Homo sapiens: one gene and its partner. The protein of the gene in region 1 interacts with the protein of each later gene in a pairwise test. Each region holds a gene or a part of one and is shown in the gene's direction. Other genes may lie near its edges. The genes, in order: PSME4 and MTNR1A.

The links.
Region 2: the proteins of PSME4 (region 1) and MTNR1A interact in a two-hybrid assay, tested with the Homo sapiens proteins (one large-scale study listed by BioGRID and IntAct).

What each region holds. Positions count from the first base shown.
Region 1 is NC_000002.12:53,894,196-53,898,026, reverse strand, and holds part of PSME4 (proteasome activator complex subunit 4), read left to right. Parts: intron 1-27; coding exon 28-157; intron 158-1,141; coding exon 1,142-1,223; intron 1,224-2,290; coding exon 2,291-2,444; intron 2,445-2,950; coding exon 2,951-3,020; intron 3,021-3,831. UniProt on the Homo sapiens protein: Associated component of the proteasome that specifically recognizes acetylated histones and promotes ATP- and ubiquitin-independent degradation of core histones during spermatogenesis and DNA damage response.
Region 2 is NC_000004.12:186,535,809-186,538,845, reverse strand, and holds part of MTNR1A (melatonin receptor type 1A), read left to right. Parts: intron 1-134; exon of another isoform or gene 135-601; intron 602-3,037.

The sequences.
Region 1 (3,831 bases):
TGCTTTGTTATTTTTCCTCCTTTTAAGGCCCTGGAAATTTGAACATATAGGCATTGGGCTTCTGTCTCTACTGCTGAGAGATGACCGAGTGTTGCCTCTTCGTGCCATACGGTTTTTTGTTGAGAATCTCAACCATGATGCAATTGTAGTTCGAAAGGTACATACCTTGTTTTAGCTACAGTCTTGGGTTTGAGAATATGTACGTGACCTGAAGTCTTTAAATTCTTCACAAGCAATACACACTTGGTTAATAAATATCTTGAAGTGTATTGATTTGAAATCTCCCCCTGTTGATTCAGAGATGATAATGATTCATCTAACAAATGAACATGTTTAGGCACTCTGTTTAAAAGACTGGGGATATAGCAGGAAATAAGTTTATAGGCTAATGGGAAAGATTTAACAATTAGAAAATTAGGTGTGCAGTGTGTTTCAGGAGGGGCAAGAAACTCGAGGGTATAGCTTTTTACTCTCCAAGTGTTAGAGGTGAGGTGGGGGTTGGGGAGATGGCCTAAGCTGAAGCATTGGAGAAAGACCTTTAAAAATACCCTGAGGCTGGGCAGGGCTTGGTGGCTCATGCCTGTAATCCCAGCACTTTGGGAGGCTGAGGCAGGTGGATCACCTGAGGTCAGGAGTTCAAGACCAGCCTGACCAACATGGAGAAACCCTGTCTCTACTAGAAGTACAAAATTAGCTGGGCATGGTGGCACACGCCTGTAATCCCACCTACTTGGGAGGCTGAGGCAGTAGAATCGCTTGAACCCGGGAGGGGGAGGTTGCAGTGAGCTGAGATTGTGCCATTGCACTACAGCCTGGGCAACAAGAGTGAAAACTCTGTCAAAAAAAAAAAAAAAAAAAACCCTGAGGCTAAGATTTGAAGAATGAGCAGGTATTGGTTTAACAAAGAAGGGGTCAAAGTTTTCTAGGCAGAGAGACTAGCATGTGTCAAGACTGTAGAGTAAGAACTGCCTATGATTCATTCTAAGTCAGATTTAGCACTCACATGGATGTACTGCCAGATGTCGATAGGCGAGGTGTTTTTTTAAAGAAACAGAATCCTATTTCTGCTTTGAGTAAAGCAGACAACCAGTTAAGTGATTTAAACTTTTTTTTATGAATGTGTACCTTTTTCCTTTTCTAGATGGCTATCTCAGCTGTTGCTGGTATCCTTAAACAGCTAAAAAGAACCCACAAAAAGCTGACCATTAACCCCTGTGAAATCAGTGAGTACTACCAGAAGTAATTAATAGTGCTTTCCAATAAAACTCAGAAAATTTTCTTGACATGTATAAATTCTAGTTCTTGACCTCAAATATTGTTCTATGGATATTAACACAAAATATAAATAATATTATGAAGGAAACAGTTGACTTAGTAAAAGCTAGTGATAACTATTTACAAAAATAGATTGACTCTTTCTGCCTTCATATTTATCTCACCTACTAAGCAATTATACTAATTATTTTATCAACTGTATTTCAAAGACTTAAATTGCTGTTATTAATTTGTTAAATGTTTCTCTTTGGGTGGTGGGATTAGGGACAAGGTGAATTTTCTTCCTCATACCTTATTGTATTACCAGAATTTTTCAGAAGAAAAAACCATTTTTTTCTGGTCTCCAATCCAGGATTAAAACATTGCATTTAAATTGTATGGTATCTTTAGTTTCCTTTAATGCAATGTTTAATCCTGGATTGGATTATAGTCCAGAAGAAAATGTTTTAATTTTTTTCATATAAAGTACATTCAGTGGGACAACTGTCAAAATTTGAGTAAAGTCTGTTGATGAAATAATTTTACTGTATTAATGAAAGCTTTTTTGAGAATTGTATTTTGATTATTTGAGATGATGTCTACAGTTTATACTCATAGTTTAGATAAGTATGTGTGGAGAGAGAGAGAATATCAAAGTATGCATGGTAAAATGTCAAAATTTGGGTGTCTCAGTAAAAGATGTGGGAATTTTTTGAGCTCTGTAAGTCTGAAATTATTATTTCAAATCTAAATAGTTTAAACAAAATTAATCCTTTTAATTTTGGTAAAAGGAATGAAGTGTGTTTCATACTTGATCTCTCCCCCAAAATAACTGATTCAACACAATTTAGTAGATAATGCCATCTACTCTGTTTTGAAATGTGCCTCCAATTGCTCATATATATGTTATCTTAATGTTATTTTTGTAGTGTTGTTTTGTGAAGACAAAGTTATGCTGGTACTGTTGATTGAAATTTGGTAATAATTGTTGGGCGAATATTTTTAAATTCATCAAATGTGATTGTCTTTTCCTTAGGTGGATGCCCTAAACCCACCCAAATTATTGCTGGTGATAGGCCTGATAATCATTGGTTGCATTATGACAGCAAAACTATACCAAGAACTAAAAAAGAATGGGAGTCAAGTTGCTTTGTGGAAAAAACTCACTGGGGATACTACACCTGGCCAAAGTAAGTAACTTACTGTGCACCTTATCATTAAATGCCTTTGATATAACTGCTTTATCATATTTTGGTTTCTGGGGAGGTTCAGAGGCACTTGAAGGTTCTTTTATCTTTCCCCTTCCCTAGTCCTCTCTTTCTTTTGCTCCTGCCAATGCTATGCCTCATTCCTGCCTCTTTCCTTGTGCAAAAACCCTTAGCCTTTCTGAATCCCATGGTTATATGGCTAAGGAGGTTATTAATAGCTGCTCTAAATTATATTCCTACCTATTAATAATACATATGCCTAAACCAGCCCAGAGAAATACATATTTTTCTCTCCTTATTTACTCCATTTGTCATTAGGACACAGTGATCTGATAGATTTTTAAGGCCTAGACTGTTACTGCTGTACTCATCTCCCCAAACTTAGCATCTAGTTAGAGTTCATTAAAAGTGCCTTCTAATGCTTTCTATCCATGAAGCTCTAATATTTTTTTCTATGCGTATGATAAATATGAACTCTTACTATATAGGAATATGGTTGTTTATGCTGGTGTGGAAGAGCAGCCTAAGCTTGGCAGAAGCAGGGAGGATATGACAGAGGTAAGCATTCCATTTCACCATGGTTCAAATGCATCTTGTTTTGGGCCACTGATTTATCTCAACCTCACTTCAGTTCTTCTTCTTCTTTTTTTTCTTAATACAATTTGTGTTTTTCTGTATAGCACTGCATAAATATTGGTGACTATGTAATCCATTCTCCTCAACCCCTTCATACTAGTGCCAGTTGACATAGATGTTGATGTATCTAAGACTGAGTTACTACCCCATTCAGCCCTCCGTTGGCTACTGCTTTATGTAATTTGCTGCTCATTTCTTGTATCAGTTCTGATACAAGCGTTTTGAAGGAAAAGTTAATGACTGATTTTTAGTTTTCTATTGCATATAAATTATGGGATCTCCGTAAATGCATGTTGGTAGATTTCAGTTAAAACTCCTTAAACTTCATTTAATTTACTTCACTTTGAAAGTTGACTTGGCTGGGAGCCATGGCACATGCCTGTAATCCCAACACTTTGGAAGTCTGAGGCAGGTAGATCACTTGAGCCCAGGAGTTTGAGACCATCCTGAGCAACATGGCAAAACCTTGTCTCTACAAAAAATACAAAAATCAGCTGGGCGTAGTGGTGCACACCTGTAGTCCCAGCTACTTGGGAGGCTAAGGTGGGAAAATTACCCGACCCGAGGAAGGCAAGACTGCAATGAGCCATGATCGCACCACTGCACTCCAGCCTGGATGACAGAGTGAGACCCTGTCCCAAAAAAAGAAAAGAAAAAAAAGAAAGTTGAGAAAGGGTTTTTAAGTTTATGTACTTGGTCCTTGAGTTAATGGTATTGTAACTTTTTCTGATTC
Region 2 (3,037 bases), on another chromosome or scaffold:
CTAGTCCTATTACAGAATCGACTGCAGGTAACCCAAAACCAATACAGAGAAACCATCCTGAAGGTTCTCCTTGGTCCACTTCCAGAACCAAATTCTGTATCAGTCTGGGTTCAATCAATCCAAGAAGTAAAATTGCTAGAGCAGTTGTGTGAGCTGATTAAATAGCGTATTTGAGGTTTTCGCTTCTGTGTCTGGTGCTGCTGTCTAAAGTCCACGGATTTAAGAAGGAAAGCTGGATGTTAGGAGGGGACGCAGGGGAAGCTAGAACCTGGGAGGAGGGACTGGAGCTCTGGAGGATGGTCGAATCTCAAGCCAGGAGGAGGTGAGCAGGAGCTGGAGAAGCTGTGAGCACACTGCCGTCACCCACCCCCTGCAGGGCAGCAGATGAGACTCGGAGTGCCGAGCTTGTGGTGGCGTCTGGCACTTGACACAGACATACTGAGGGCAGAGAGCAAGCTACTGCTGCACTTCCGCCTTCAAAATCTCACGCAATTGCCTCTTGTGGGGAACACTAACCCGGAGCGGTGCAAGGAAAAGTCTTTTCAGCTTCGCGAAGTTGACACAATATAAACCCACTGTGCATCGATTAACCCTCGGCCAGGTACTGTTCAAGGTGGAGGGAGAAGATATCTAAGACAGGCAGTGTCCTCACCGAGGTGATAGCTGGGGCTGTGGGAGATGGGGAGAAGTAGAGACATAATCGCGATAAACAGAAAAGCAACGTCGTGCTGCTGTGTCATTCCCAGAAGGGACTCACAGGACTAGTTCTGAGGAAGGTACTCCCAGCAAGCTGACATTTTAGTTGTCTGTTACCTTATTTTATTCATATCTGTGCCATATTTCACTTCCACTTTAAGGTTTTATTCCTGGGAACAAATATTGACTGTGCATTTTATAGTTGGTGCCTTTAATCACCACAAGGCTGATCGCTGTTCGTCTTGTTGCCAGCATACTGACTTAGGTGTTTTCCTCCCCCATCTTCTCTTTAGAATGTTCTAGTTCAAATACGCTTCTTCAGAATTGTGCCTGGAGAGGCTGTAAGCCAGGACGTAGCCACAGGGCCCAGTTTCTGAGTCTCGTATCTGTAGGAGCACAGGAGCTTTCTCAGGGAAATAACATTGAACAACACTCACCAGTTCATAGCATTGGTATAATCCTGACTCTTTCACTAAGTAGTCGTACGACTTCATCCAATTTAACTCTATATTTTTGTTTTCTCATCTTTAAAAAGTAGGAATTATCCAGGGAGATCATTAACCCATCTCTCAATTTTAACATCCTATGATTCTATGATTCTGCCACAGTAAGGATTGGAACTATATTCAACAGAGAAGAAATTCTTACCCATGAACAGACATTATTTTACATTTCAGAATGCATTATTAAGCTTGTTGCATACAGTCCTGGATATCTGTAAAAATGGGTAGATTGTCCATATGTCTGGAGTTACATAGATTTGAGAATGGAATAGATGAACTTATAATGTGTATAATTATAATTAGATGATTTAATGACTCTTATCTGGTGAAGTTCATAAAAGAAAAAAGGAAATTCCCTTTTTCCTTCTCCGCCCAGACACCACACACCCCCCAGGCACACATGAACACTGGTGCTAAAGCTTTATGTGAGCTACCTGACAGCCGCACCTGTGGGGAGTCTGTGGCTTAATTAATTTTCACCAAGATTTGTAAAATGGGATTAATTCAAAGAATCAATGATCTAATTAATGTAATTGCTTGAATTGTAATGCAACATAATTACTATAAAATAAATGAAGCAGGGTATTCGAGCCATGAAAGAAATTTATGACATCATTTGTGATTTCATTTTTAAGCTCTTTTAAAAATAAATCCATATTAGGCCAGTTTGTCATCATGACACTCTGGGAACAAATGTGCTGTTACAATGACAGTTTGATTTGGAACAGAATTTCACATATTATAGATGCTTTTAAAGCATTAAACATTTTGAGCTAAATAATTTATTAAAATACACCTCTTAGGAATTTAAATGTTTCAACGCTAATTGAAAGTGATCTGTGGGAAAATAAATTTGCCTTTGTAACTTTAATTTGGATGAATACAACCAATTTTTAAAGTATTTGCTTTTATGACAATTTATCTGAAATTCCTAAATAAATGGCACAAATTTTGCCTTTCTCTCATCTTGACTGCTATGGGCTGTCTCATTTCAAATATTGGGAAGTGACAGTTTAATGAACTCATTGAGTGTATGAGCAAAAGTCACTGTATTTATTGGGTGTGGTCTAGGACGCAAATATGAGGAAATGTACTCACGAGGGCCACCATCTGGAGACGCAGGGAAGCCTGGCCTACAGGTCAATAGAATAGAAGGCGAAATCTTCTGTCCGTCCACCTGGGGCTCCCTCTGTCCCTGTCCAGCGCACCCCTTTCCTCACAGCTTCTGGTCTGTGCGTGCTCTGGTGCTGCTGCTTACTCTAGTGTAATTTTCTTTTTCTTTTTTTTCTTTTTTTTTTTTGATACGGAGTTTTGCTCTTGTCACCCAGGCTGGAGTGCAATGGCGCGATCTCTGCTCACTGCAACCTCTGCCTCCCAGGTTCAAGCAATTCTCCTGGCTCAGCCTTCCAAGTAGTTGGGATTACAGGTGCCCGCCACCACGCCCAGCGAATTTTTGTATTTTTAGTAGAGACGGGGTGTCACCATGTTGGCCAGGCTGGTCCTGAACTCCTGACTTCAGTTGATCCACCCACCTTGGCCTCCCAAAGTGCTGGGATTACAGGTGTGAGCCACTGCGCCCAACCACTCTAGTGTAATCTTTTTGACTTTTCCTGTCTCTCAATTCCTGTTTCCCCCTGCACCAAATATATGCATTTAATATGTAAACTGAATTGAATTTATTATAATTTAATCTGAGTAAAAAGCAGTATAAAGTGCTTTAAGACCCTTCAAAGGAGGAAGCTCTTACCACTAGGTGGGCAAATGAGCAAAGGCTTCTGGCATTTCTATTTGAGATAGACTTGGGAGAATGGGCAGGATTTAGAAAGTTGATGTGAGGA